2 linked regions of the Homo sapiens genome follow. Each later gene encodes a partner of the first gene's protein in a complex. Each region holds a gene or a part of one and is shown in the gene's direction. Other genes may lie near its edges.

What was found. The genes of interacting proteins can lie anywhere in the genome.
Region 2: the proteins of PTN (region 1) and ITGAM are in contact, whole or in part, in an NMR structure (PDB 8VOH), measured with the Homo sapiens proteins. Residues at the interface, in NP_001308315.1 of Homo sapiens: Val56, Pro57, Thr58, Ser59, Asp61, Cys62, Gly63, Leu64, Thr66, Glu68, Thr79, Lys81, Thr82, Gln83, Arg84; in NP_000623.2 of Homo sapiens: Pro273, Asp276, Arg277, Gly279, Val280, Ile281, Arg282, Tyr283, Lys306, Pro307, Arg309, Asp310, His311, Ala334, Ile335, Glu336, Gly337, Thr338, Gln339.

What each region holds. Positions count from the first base shown.
Region 1 is NC_000007.14:137,228,718-137,235,738, reverse strand, and holds part of PTN (pleiotrophin isoform 1 precursor), read left to right. Parts: intron 1-7,021.
Region 2 is NC_000016.10:31,255,303-31,262,992, forward strand, and holds the start of ITGAM (integrin alpha-M isoform 2 precursor), read left to right. Parts: upstream 1-4,672; 5' UTR 4,673-4,762; coding exon 4,763-4,790; intron 4,791-6,389; coding exon 6,390-6,495; intron 6,496-7,690.

The sequences.
Region 1 (7,021 bases):
TGTGGATGAAGCAAAGTATCAGCATGTGGGTAGCACTGAGGGGCAGTATGCATGTACACATGTTTTCCACACATATCGTAGAAGTAAATGCATTGAGTCCATAAAAGAGGAAATGAAACAATTGATGCTACAAAATAGGAAATCAAAGAAGAAACAACAAAATTATTGCATAGGCATTGGACTGAACTACATCTGTGAATAACACATTAAGCAAATGTTTAAAAGATGATACTTTTGATTTTTAACAGAAATATGTTTCTGTATTTTGCCACTTAATTTATGCTACTCATTTAAACTGAAATATTTGGAAATTGAATGAACAGTGCCACGTTAGGCAGCCTAGCCAACCAGTACCTGGATTTTAGTTCCTGAATCACTGAGCTGTATGTTCACAATTCGACAAGCCTTGTTATCAGTTCTGAGGCATAGCTGACGTGGGGCGAGGGATTAGGTAGTTCTAGATGACTAGGCAGTTAATTCTTAAGCACAGGTGAGTTACTTTAAATCGGTTCACAAAGCATTAAAAGGATCTTGGTGATATGCAGGCTTTTGAACATATTTACGTTGCGATGGTACTGTTTGACAGGGATATGATCCTTTTTCTGTGATAAGTCCTTGTGATTTATTGAACAAGTCTCCAAAAGTGAACTTTCAGTGGTCTTGATGGTATGCCTCCAACTGTTCCTTTTCAGCTGTCTCTCTTGACCTCTGCAATGTGCATTTCTGAATGATTTTAGCTTCTTTTAGCTAAAATGAATTCTATCTCTTAGAAGGTGCACATTTTGTATTTCTATTCTAATCAATACTTCCTCCCACTGCTTTAATAACCCAAAGACACTTTATTTAAGTCAGCAGCGAACAGGGCCTGAGTCACTTTAGTTAAAATCTGGGCTCCCCTCAATCTGAAATCATTTCATCTCCTAATTTCCTTTTTAGTTTTTCTGTATACACAGCAGGCCATCTGAAAATAAGTAATCAAAGCAAGACCTTTTACTGAGAAAATGAGATAAGCTTATTTCAGAATTCTCAACTTTCTCACTTCTTGAAAAACATGTCCCCTTAAGGTCTTTGAACAATCTTTAAACAGATGTCTTTCTCTTAAGGCCCACTTCCAATCTGATTTCTCCCAGATTTTCTTAATATTGAAAGTGGGGAGTTGATGTTTACTTATACCAACTACATGGCAATTCTATTTCCAAAAGGCTTGTGAAAAGATAGAAAACAGATGATGCTTGTTGTCTGATTATTTGCCTTTCAAGAGTAACTTTGCTGTGATAGACTCATATAAATTGCTGATAAGAATTTAAATTACTACTTCCTTTCAAAAAATAAATTTCCCGACACATATCTGGAGTTTTTAAAATGTCCTGCCCTTGGATCCAGTACATCCTTTTCTAATAATCTATACTAAGGCAAAATTTAAGCATTCGATGATTTGTGAACAAAATCAGCATTGCATCATTATTTATAATAACAAGAGGTCAGAACTATCCAACTGATGTACAAAAGATGAAAGGTTACAAAATATATGGAGTAGGATAATATAAAGGAATATTACTTGGTCACATTTCAAAGTATATGCAATGACATGGAAAATAGATACAATTGAATTTTTAGCATAAAATACTATATCAACTGTCAATATATTCCTAAGTAAAGTCATAGAAAGAAAACATAAATAGAACTCGTTAAAAGTGTTGTTTCTACATTGTGAAGTTATGAGTAATCTCTCTCTCTCTATGTATGTGTGTGTGTATATATATACATATATATGTATATGTATACGTGTACATATACATATATATGTATACATATATACATATATGTATGTGTGTGTGTGTGTGTGTGTTTCTTTGGTTTTTATATGAGTCTGTAATACTTTTTAAATGAGACAAGTAATTAATATTTTTTAAGAAGAATGAAATAACCCCAAGAGGAGAAACCCTCCTTTTCCTTCAGGGTAAATCTACTGTAGGTATACTCTTTCTTTCTAGTAATTCATTCTCCTTGTGGCTGCTCTATTTTTCACAACACATGTCTCTGGATTGTAGTAGTAAATTAGCAACAAGAAAACCAGGTCTCAAAACCATAAAAATAGCTGCCACATACCCATGATCTTTAATATAAATATGTACTTTAAAGCACTTTACAATTTTGAAAGACTCTCCCATAAAGCCACCTTGAAAGTGTTGTTTGTAATGTCAGCTGTGTGAAGGCAGAGTTTTGTCTTGTTCACCTTTATACCCTAGCGTCTAAAACAGTGGAGATGGAGTGCATATTTGCTGAATCAATAAATTAATGTGTTTTGAACATTAGTGGTAAGATGAGATTGCAGAGGACATAATCTCACATGATACTAACACTGGCCCTCTGAGGAGGATATAGGTTTTATTATCCCCAGTTTATAGGAAACAGAGGCAGAATGATTGATCTGCACAAGATCACAGAGCTGGTAAGTGGCAAACATCTATTTGAACCAATTCTCTAGATTAGGGCTTAGTTCTTAGTATGATTCTAACAAAACTTCATGATTTTTTCATTGTCTCACCGTACCTAAAGGCCATGGTGTCACTTAATACGTTAGCATTTATCAAGATTTTGTTTTCTATTCAGCATAGAAAAAAACACATGGGCTCAGAATTGTAACACGGCTCATATTAATTTCTACTCATTCTTCTCACTGCATTTACTGTATTAGCCCATTCTCGTGCTGCTATGAAGAAATACCCAGAACTGGGTAATCTATAAAGAAAAGAGGTTTAATTCCCTCACAGTTCCACATAGCTGGGGAGACCTCAGGAAACATACAATCATGGCGGAAGGCACCTCTTCACAGGGTGGCAGGAAAGAGAATGAATGCAAGCAGGGGAGATGCCAGACACTTATAAAACCATCAACTCTCATAAGACTCACTCACTATCACAGAATAGCATGGGGGAAACTGCCGCCATGATCCAATTACCTCCATCTGGTCCTGCCCTTGACACATGGGGATTATGGGGATTACAATTCAAGGTGAGATTTGGGTGGGGACACAGAGTCAAACCATATCACTGCCTGTCTTCTTTCTTATCAGGAGTTGTTATGCATTCAAAGAATTTCCTTGGATAAATTCTGAGTTTTCTAGATTGAATATGGTGAACATGGCCCTTTGGATCCTATGATTCATAGCAATGTAAGAAGCCTGAATCCTTTCTAGAGTACTTTTTCTTAGTAAAGCCTTAGGACTTTCTGAACACTTTCAAACGTATCTTAAAACAATGTATTTGTATTTAAAAACCCCCCACAAAGTTACAAAAATACACACCTACTATTTTTTCTCATCTCTGTATCCCAATTATTATGAGTACTAGCCTCTATCAACTCAAAAACTGGCCAAAGAAAGGATGAAAGTTTGAAAACCCAGGAAGTTAAAATCTACCCAGGGCACTGCTGTGAGATTCCAGTGCAGTGATGTCCTGGTAGGAACAGAACAAGTCACCTTTCAGGCAGGTGCCCTTTACTTTCACATGTTGACAATGGCTCATTCTCTGTTTATATCCATTTCTGCTTTGCAGCCTCAATCCAGGCAGGGACAAGGGACATGTGGCCCGGGGTGTTATTTGATGTGTGGTGTATGTGTACTTCCTTCTCTTGATTTGGCTCTGTTCAATGTGAACTAAAGTGCCCTACTGTTCACATCAGGGTAGGAATCCTATTGGCTCTCAGAACCTTCTAGAGTAGCCGCTATATGACTTCAATAAAAAAGCACTTGGCTTTAACTAATTATAGCCCTGCTCCAGGCTAATTTGTGACCCACATCTCATAGTAAACATTTCTCTCTAACCTTGAAAGGCGACTAAACTGGGACAGTTTTACCCACAGAGTTTAATCAGGTCTCTATTCTAAAGACAAAGTTTTAAGAAACCTGGATAAATTTCATATACGTATGTTTGTAAGTTTTCTTCTTCATAAAATATTTGTCTTTAAAGATAGACTGAAATTTGACAAGATTCTAATTGGATTTACACTCCTTACTTTCCTTGAGAAATACTCTTTTCTATATAGTAATGGGTTGAACTATTTCCCATTCAAGTATTCATTTATCCACTCCGCATGCAACAAGTATTTCATGAATGCTTGTTATATCTCAGGCACAGAATATACAGTTGCAACATACAGATAGGGTCTCTATTGTCATAGGAAAGGAAAAACACATACCAAATAATTAGAGACAAAATTAATAGTTCAATTCTAGTTTTGGAAAAATCAATGGGAGGCACAATGAGAGTGTCTGTGCACGGAATCTGCTTATCTGAGAGCTCTTGGAGGGCTTCCCTGAGAAAATGCAGTTGAGGCTAAGATTTTAAGGATGACTAGGTGCTGACTGTGCAAATTGGGGTAGTAGGAGAAGGAACACTCAGGCCAAGAGGAAATAATATGAAAAGGATAAGATGGAAAGAAGCAAAGAAAAGTCAAAGAACCGTCATAAGGAAGATGGGTGAGACATATTATCACCATGTTATGGATCCATTTATTTTCACTAAAGCTTTACTAATCAGCTTTTACACACAAGGCCCTGTGCCATGGGTTGGAGGTACAACAGAGAGTAGAAACTGCACCCTCTCGCAGCTTGTATTTTGGTGGCAGTTACAATGCTAGAGATAGGTGCTCTAACAAGAGCAGGAAAGAGAAACAACTTCTAACTCACACTGCGAGGTCAGCAAACTAGAAGTGATGTCAATGCTGGTACCTGAAGGATGGGAGGCATTAATGAGACATGTCGTAGTGGAAGTGTGGGGTTGATGAAATGAAGAGTGAATTTGAAGGCCAGAGACTAGAGAGAAAAACAGACAAAGAGAAAAGATGTATTTGGGGAACTAAAATAAGCATAAGTATGAAGATGGAAGTAAAGAGGGGCAATGTGAATGTTTCAGTTTCTTCATCTATTACGTAAGGGCGTTGGACCACGTTCTTTCTAGGTCATAGATTTTGTGATACTATTTTAAACCCATCATGTATACTAGGTAAAGATTGAGAGGTTGTTAATAAGTTTTTGAGGCCACAGAGATAAGCAGTGACAAAGCTCATTTAGTCTTTCAGTTGAATGTACATAAAAGTCACAAAAAACTGCTTTCGATTGGAAGCAATATTACTGACCTGATTTTTTTTCACAAAAATTTGAACACTTTGTTATGTAAAAAACTAAACTGACCTTATTGCAAATATGAATTCTTCCCTCCTTCCACTACTTTTTACTGAAGACTCTTTATTTTTCTCTTTAGATTGAGCCCAGAGTAGACTCAAGTTCTGCAGGGTGTCCGGACAGTACCATGATTACTTGCCACTTGTGTCAGAAGAATAAGTTGATTGACATTGTACAGATTTAATAAGCAAATTGTTGATTTCCTGGTATTTAGCAAGTTGTCAATTAAGGAATAAGACACCAATGTCAGGTTCAGGGTTACCTAAGAATGTGCTCTTGCCTTTACCAAGAAGAATTTGGTGACAGATTCCTATTCCCAAAGTGTTCTTTGAAATGGACAACCTTACATTAACAGATCAAATAGTGTCCAATGTTCAGAATAATTTTAAGTTTTATGAAACTTTTATACAAAAACCTGGTTAGTATGTCATCTGCTCAGACTTATGTATGAAATAGGAACATGTTAGCCAAAATATGAAAATTGCTACTTAGATATCCACTCTACTGGAGACCTAGAAGATAACAAGTTCCTGAGGGTTTTCCAGGAAGGGACATGAGGAAACTGAGAGAGGGAAAACCAGAGTTAGGTCTCAGTTGAAATCCTACATTGTTCTCTGAAGATACCATCCTAATATACAGCTGTTGCCTAAAATGTTGACCAAAAATTGGGAATTATTACATTTTCAGACACTGAATAATTTTTCGGAAATTACACATAATGTCTCCTTTGATCTAAAATGTATCTTTCACTTGGAAATTCTGGTCATTACACCTCTCATAGGGTGAAAGAAAGATATTTGAGAAAACAAACAAAAATAGAGAGCGTGAAAAGTTAAATTTCTTTAGTATAGAAATGGGGCAAACTTGGGAAGTCATGAATGGAATGAATACAATTATGGACAACAATTTAGCCTGGGTTTAGAAACTGCTGACCCACTTGCATATAGTGTACCCTTGAAGTTTGAGTAAAGGAAGATTAGGACAATTACATTGAACAGAAATACTACTAGTGTGTAATGGACTTTGGAACCTACTTGAAGAGGTCATGAAGATAGTATATAGAAATGGAAAAGTTTCCAGCTCTACTTAAGTATGAGCTGAGAAATATACAATATTTCTAGTTGGCATCATATCATATCTTCTGTCTTCATAAGTCTTATGGTCCTCTTGGACACAGGCTGTATGCTCCAGTGAACAATGACCTCATCCCTGTTGGTCATTGTTTTTGTCCCAGTGACCCTATGTTGCTTAGCACATTCATTGACCTGCTCAATCAATATGCCTTGATAATGATTAAGGATTTTAATTATACAGGGTAATGATCTCTTGTTCTTGCTCTATTATCACCCTAATGATAAATGCTAACCTTAATTGAGCACATGCTATTGTATCATGTTCTGTTCTCAGTAGATTTTATAGAACAGGTTTAATTTGGATATAAACCGTATGCTTACTATCATATGCTATGGTACTTTTCATATGCCTATTTAAAGATGAGTAATCTAAGAAACAAATACATTAAGTAACTTTCTCAGTGTCTCACAGTAACTTAATGATGTGGCCAGGATTTAAACTTCAGCAGTCTGACTCCAGAGCCTGTACTTAACCAGTATATTTCTGCCACTACTATGGACCAAATTGGAGAAGTGGCTCAGAAATATTTAGCAATATCCCCTCACTTGCTAACCCAGTGATTCTGACCATTTTTGTCTTTGGAGCCAAATTAGATGTGTTCTATTCTACATTGCATTCTCCTGTTAGGAAAAGAGAAGTGGAAAGATGGTTGAATGGAAAAGAATGGAGTCTTTTGATTGAAATCCTCAATGTTTTACTTTC
Region 2 (7,690 bases), on another chromosome or scaffold:
TGTTTAATTAATTAATTATTTATTTAATTAAAAAAATTTAAGAGACGGGGTCTTATTATGTTGCCCAGGCTAGAGTACAGTGTATGGTGGCATGATCATAGCTCACTGCAACCTCGACCCCTTGGGTGCAAGTGATCCTCCTGCCTCAGCTTCCTGAGTAGCTGGGACTACATGTGCATACCACCACACTAGATAATTAAAAAAAAATTTTTTTTAAGAGACAGAATCTTCCTATGTTGCCCAGGTTGGTCTTGAACTCCTGGGCTCAAGCGATCCTCCCACTCTGGACTCCCAAAGTGCTGGTATTACAGGCAGTGAGCCATTGTGCCTGGCATTAGCTCCTTCTTTTCCTCACTTTCCCACCAGTGTTTCCGGAATCACCTTCCAGATAAATTACTTACACTTGAAGCCTTGTCTCAGAGTCCACTTATAGGGGAAATCAAGCTAAGATTTTATCAAGAGTGGGGATGGGGGACAGGTAGGAGGGAACAGCCAACAGCTTATAGATATGTCCCCACCCACGGTCACCAGGTCAGGTGCACACTTGGTGGTGGCTCATTGAGAAAGCCTCTGCAGGTTGGACAGCCAGTCTGAGATCTTGCCTATGTTTTTACAGAGAGTGGACCCTTGGCCACTGTTCAGGGCAAGGAGGGGCCTCCACGTCTGAGTTCGAGCAGCCCCCATAGTGGCCAGAGTGTGAAAACTTTTCCCAAAGCAAACCCAGCTGATCTACTAAACTCCTCCCCGGGCACCCTGGTTGGTATCTTCTCATCTTGGGCTCATGACTTCGTTCGTCCTTTCCTCAGCTTCTTTACCTGCTAACAAATACAGGTAACCTGTTGTTTTAAATTATCTATTGGTATTTTTTATGATTATGAGTCTTTTTTTTGTATAAAGGTCTTTTTTTTTTTTCTCTTTGAGACATGGTCTTGCTCTGTTGCCCAGGCTGGAGTGCAGTGTTGAGGTCATAGCTCACTGTAGCCTCAAACTCCTGGGCTCAAGTGATCCTCTTGCCTTGGCCTCCCACAGCATTGGGATCACAGGCATGAGCCACTGCACCCAGCCTATATAAATATTTTAAGTACAAATGATATAGAAAAGAATATTAAAGTCATCTTGTAGCAGATTGAATACAACCACAAATTCCTCCCATTGGGAGGTGGGATCTGTGTCCCCTTTGCTTGAATGTGGATGAGCTCTGTGACTGCCTGATCAATGGAATGTGGTGCAGATGACTTGGCGCCAGTTTCCAGATCAAGACCTTAGTAGCCTGGAAATTTCTGCTTCCTGTCTGTTGGAACACTTGCTCTTGAAGTCCAGCCACCATGCTGCGAGAAGCCCAAGCCACATGGAGAGGGCACGTGGGGGTGCCCAGGTGACAGCCCCAACTGAGCTCCTAGCCCACGGCCAACTGCCAGCTGTGGGAGTGACCCATTTTGGGAGCCCAGCCCAACTGAGCTTTGGATTACTCTAGCCCTGGTTGTGATCCGACTGCAATCATGTGAGAGACCCCGCTGAGAACTGCTGAGGCCAGGAGATTCACAGATACGCGAGAGATTATAATATGCTGCTGTTTTTAACTATGAAGTTTTGGAGTAGCTCGCTCTGCAGCAATAGATACTGGAACATACCTGTAATCCTCCTATCTTGGAGATAACGACTATTAACATTTGGTTTTCCTGCATATATATATATATATATATATATATATATATATATATATATATATGATTTATTTTTGTATGTATGTACTTATTTATTTAATTTTAATTTTTTATTTTTTGAAACTGAGTCAAGCTCTATTGCCCAGGCTGGAGTGCAATGGTGCAATCTCAGCTCACTGCAACCTCCACCTCCCAGGTTCAAGTGATTCTCCTGCCTCAGCCTCCCAAGTAACTAGGATTACAGGTGCCTGCCACCACGCCTGGCTAATTGTTGTATTTTTAGTAGAGATGGGGTTTCACCATGTTGGCCAGGCTGGTCTTGAACTCCTAATCTCAGGTGATCCTCCCACCTCAGCCTCCCGAAGTGCTGGGATTACAGGCGTGCCTGTATATATTACATGCCCTGCCTATATATATTTTAGAGACAGGGTCTGGCTCTGTTTTCCAGGCTGGAGTGCAGTGGTGCAATCATATCTCACTGCAGCCTCAACCTCCTTGGCTCAAGCGATCCTCCCACCTCAGCCTGTTGAGTAGCTGGGACCACAGGTGTGCATCACTATGCCCAGCTAATTTTTAAACATTTTTTTGTAGAGTCAGGGTCTTGCTGTGTTGCCCAGGCTGGTCTTGAGTTCCTGAGCTCAAATGATCCCTCTGCCTTGGCCTCCCAATGTGCTGAGATTACAAGCAGGAGTCACCACACCTGGCTATATATAAAAATTATAAACAGATAATTTTTAACCAAATGTACATAATTTTAATTGCTTTTTTTTTTTTCAGCCAGCAAGCATTTTTTTCCATCTAGTTATCGGGAAAGTAGAACTAGAGGCAAAAGAAAATGTGTTGAATGGTGAAACCCTGTCTCTACTGAAAATACAAAAAATTAGCCAGGCGTGGTGGCAAGCACCTGTATTCTCAGCTACTCGGGAGGCTGAGGCAGGAGAATCACTTGAACTCGGGAGGCAGAGGTTGCAGTGAGCTGAGATCACGCCACTGCACTCCAGCCTGGGCGACAGAGGGAGACTCCGTTTCACAAAAAAAAAAAAAAAAAAAAAAAGAAAATGTGTTGAGAAAGAGTGAAAAAAATCATTGGCTTGAGAATCACATTGGCGGTCACATAAAGGTGAGGTTTGTGTTCCATGTATGTGTGGAAGGATACCTATTTTCCTGTGCCTTTGAAAACAGAATTAAAAGTGACAGACACAGGGGAGGGTAAGGATATATCACAGAGTGAAGTATCATTGAACCATTCCTCTGTTGAATATTCAGGTTTTTTTAGCTTTTCATATTAACAATAATGCTGCAATGAACAAGCTTGCAAATATATATATATATATATATTTTTTTTTTTTTAGAGATAAGAGTCTTGCTCTGTCGCCTAGGCTGGAGTGCAGTGGCACAATCTCTGCTCACTGCAACCTCCGCCTCCAGGGTTCAAGTGATTCTGCTGCCTCAGCCTCCCAGGTGGGATTACAGGTGCCTGCCACCACGCCTGGCTAATTTTTTTGTCTTTTTAGTAAAGATGAGGTTTCACCATGTTGGGCAGGCTGGTTTCAATTGCTGACCTCAAGTGAGCCACCCCGCCTCAGCCTCCCAAAATGCTAGGATTACAGGCATGAGCCACCGCACCCAGCCAAGTTTGTACATATATTTTTGACTACACTTCTTAACTATTCTTAGGATAAATTACTAGAAGTGAAAATTCTTGGGTGAAGAGCTTGAGGCCTTTACACACACACACACACACACACACAAAAATAGGCTGGATGCAGTGGCTCACACCTGTAATCTCAGCAGTTTGGGAGGCTGAGGAAGGAGGATCACTTGAGTCCAGGAGGTTGAGAATAGCCTGAACAACATAGCAAGATCTTGTCTCTACAAAAAATTTAAAAAAAATTAGCTGGCCATGGCAGCATGTGCCTGTAGTACCAGCTACTCGGAAGGCTGAGGTAGGAGGATCGCTTGAGCCCAGGAGGTTGATTGAAGCTGCAGTGAGCTGTGATTACACCACTGCACTCCAGCCTGGGCAACAGAGCTAGACTCTGTCTCTAAAAAAAGCACAAAATAATATTTAAAAAGCACCAGGTATGCCTGTACTTGAGTTGTCTTTGTTGATGGCTACAAATGAGGACAGCTCTGGCTGAAGGGCGCTTCCATTTCCATGGGCTGAAGGAGGGACATTTTGCAAAGTGTGTTTTCAGGAAGACACAGAGTTTTACCTCCTACACTTGTTTGATCTGTATTAATGTTTGCTTATTTATTTATTTAATTTTTTTTTTGAGACAGAGTCTCACTCTGTCACCTGGGCTGGAGTGCAGTGGCATTATTGAGGCTCATTGCAGTCTCAGACTCCTGAGCTCAAACAATCCTCCTGCCTCAGCCTCTGGAGTAGCTAGGACTACAGGCATGTGCCACCATGCCTGGCTAATTTTTTAAATGTATTTTTTTGTAGAGTCGGGGTCTCCCTATGTTGCCCAGGCTGGAGTGCAGTGGTGTGATCCTAGCTCACTGCAGCCTGGACCTCGGGCTCAAGTAATTCTCACACCTCAGCCTGTCCAGTAGCAGGGGCTACAGGCGCGCACCACCATGCCCAGCTAATTAAAAATATTTTTTTGTAGAGACAGGGTCTCTCTATGTTGCCCAGGCTGGTTTCAAACTCCCAGGCTCAAGCAATCCTCCTGCCTTGGCCTCCCAAAGTGCTGGCATTACAGGCGTGAGCCACTGCGCCTGGCCCGTATTAATGTTTAGAACACGAATTCCAGGAGGCAGGCTAAGTCTGTTCAGCTTGTTCATATGCTTGGGCCAACCCAAGAAACAAGTGGGTGACAAATGGCACCTTTTGGATAGTGGTATTGACTTTGAAAGTTTGGGTCAGGAAGCTGGGGAGGAAGGGTGGGCAGGCTGTGGGCAGTCCTGGGCGGAAGACCAGGCAGGGCTATGTGCTCACTGAGCCTCCGCCCTCTTCCTTTGAATCTCTGATAGACTTCTGCCTCCTACTTCTCCTTTTCTGCCCTTCTTTGCTTTGGTGGCTTCCTTGTGGTTCCTCAGTGGTGCCTGCAACCCCTGGTTCACCTCCTTCCAGGTTCTGGCTCCTTCCAGCCATGGCTCTCAGAGTCCTTCTGTTAACAGGTGCATGGGGGTGGGGTGGGGGACTCTGGGTGGGGAGGAGGGTAACTTTTGGGTCTGTCATAAATAGAGGGCCCAGAATATGTAGGAGTCAGTCTGGGGAGAGGCAAAGGGGATTTGGGGAAGGAGAAAGGGTTCAAGAAGAAGCAGGGAGAACAGCTAGACCCAGACAGGCTGGCCAGGGAAGCCTGGATGAATGACCACATTCATGGACTGTGCAAGGCTGCTTGCCGGTCCCCTTGCTTCACACATGAGGAGACGGAGGCCCAGGGAGGAGAAGTGACATGGCTCAGGGTGCGCAGCAGGTGTGAGACCCCTTTCCTGAGTGCTTCCTCCTGGATCCCCTCTCACCATCTCCACTTTGCCTCCGGTTCTATTTTCCAAGGTCCCGGGTGCAAATGTTTGTTGAATGACTGATGAATGAAAATGATTTGAGTTTGTTACCTTTTATGCTTATATGTTGTGGAAAATGAAATTCTCCTCAAAAGGGAAGGAAATACTTGAGAGCTGCATAGGAAGGAAATTATCTAATTAAGAATGTATAGAAACTTCACTGTTGGGCAAATCATCGTTGTGACACCGGGGGAAGAAGCCATTTAGGTGCTCAGAAGGGAGGCTGGAATTCAGAGCAGGACTGGACGTGCCCCACGACGGTGGTTCTTAGGTCAGGAGTCAGCAAACAGTGGCCTGGGGGCCCGATATGGCCCACGACCTGTTTTTGCACAACCTGCCAGCTAGAGATTGAAGATGAACACTGATAATCGATTTGATGATAGGGAGCACCACCCCCAAAGAATTCTATTTGTCTCATTTGTAAACCCGTATTACAAACAAATTGTACTCAATCATTATGTTTGAAATTTCCCTAATGACAAATTTGTGGAAAAGTATTTTCTGTCTTGTTATATAAGTACTTGTACAACATATTCTATCAGCCTCTTGGTCTGCAAAACCTAAAATTTACTATCTGGCTGTTTACAGAATAAGTGTGCTAATCCCCGCCCCAGGCTAACAGAGCTGGACCTGGGAGGCAGACATCTGGATGCTGGGTTAGTTAGGGTGACCGAATGGATGGGAAAGGGAATGGAGCAGGAAGACATGCTGCTATCTTTTTTTTTTTTTTTTTTTTTTGATACAGGGTCTTTCTCTGTTGCCCAGGCTGTAGTGCAGTGGCATGATCATGGTTCACTGCAGCCTTGACCTCCTGGGTTCAAGCAATCCTCCCACCTCAGCCTCCTGAGTACCACTACACCCGGCTAATTTTTTATTTTTTGTAGAGATGGGGTCTCACTGTGTTGCCTAGGCTGGTCTTAAACTCCTGAGCCCAGGTGATCCTCCCACGTCAGCCTCTTAAATTATTGGGATAACAGGCCTGAGCCACCACACCCAGCCATTGCTTTCTTTTAAATTATTATTAGTTTTTGTTTTTTTTTTGTATTTAATTTTGAGATAGGATCTCTCTCTGTTGCTCAGGCTGGAGTGCAGTGGCACAATCAGGGCTCAAGTGATCCTCCTGCCTCAGCCCTCCAAAGTGCTAGGACTACAGCCCCTAACTGGCATGCTACTTTCCTCTGCTTGATCCTTCCCCCATTCTCCCTTTAGCCTTGACCTTATGTCATGGGTTCAACTTGGACACTGAAAACGCAATGACCTTCCAAGAGAACGCAAGGGGCTTCGGGCAGAGCGTGGTCCAGCTTCAGGGATCCAGGTGAGACCCTTAGATGGAGCCCCCTTTCTCAGTGCTTTCTCTCCAAGACTTACATACCTGAAAAAAATCAGCGATTTGAGTGATCTTTTTCAACAGATAAATCAATTCAAAATATACAACAAATTCATCTTTTGAATTTACAGTATTCTAAATTCAAAAGATGCAAAAGGGTGTAAGAGTAAAAATCTCTTCCTTACTCCCTTCCCCTAGTTCCCTTCCCAGGAGGGACCTCACAAATGGTTTCCTGGGTGTTCCTTCGGGGAGACTCTGTGTGTGCATAACACATACACGTTCCCTCCCTCAGCCAACACACCATGTGTAGTATACATTGTACTGAAATTAAGGCCTGCCTGCAGGCTGCCGCCTATTTTTGTGAATGAATTTTATTGAAAACAACTCCGTCCACTTGTCTCTTACTGTTTATTGCCCTTCCCTCCCTTCCTCCCTTCCTTCCTTCCTTCCTTCTTTCCTTCCTTCCTTCCTCCCTCTCTCATTCCCTGCTTCCCTCTTTCCCTCCTTCCCTCCCTTCCCTCCCTTCCATCCTTCCTTCCTTCCTTCCTTCCTTCCTTCCTTCCTTCCTTCCTTCCTTCCTTCCTTCCTTCCTTCATTTCTTTCTTTCCTTTCTGACATGGTCTTGTTCTGTCATTCAGCCTGGAGTGCACAGGTGAAATCATAGCTCACTGTAGACTCAAACTCCTGGGCTCAAGCAATCCTCCCACCTTAGCCTCCTGAGTAGCTGGGACTACAGGCATGTGCCACCACACCTGGCTAATTTTTTGATTTTTTTTGTATAGACGAGGTCTCACTCTGTTGCCCAATCTGGTCTCAAACTCCTGGCCTCAAGTCATCCTCTTGCTTGGGCCTCCCAACTTGCTGGGATGATAGGTGTAAACCACTGTGCCTGGCTATGGCCACTTTTGAGCTGTAATGGCAGAATTCAGGAGCTGTGATAGAGATTGTATGGACCCTGAAGCCTAAAACATTTACCTTTACAGAAACAGTAATTGTGGAGGTGATAGTACCTTTCCAGAAGAAGGGGGCTGGTCTCTGCTCTTTGCTTTATCTCCCATAATACAGCCCAGTGATTTGAGTCCATTAATCCCATGTTATGCTTGCATTGCATGCCATAATTGGGAGATGCTATAATTTATTTTATTTTATTTTTTTAGAGACTCCCTCTGTCGCCCAGGCTGGA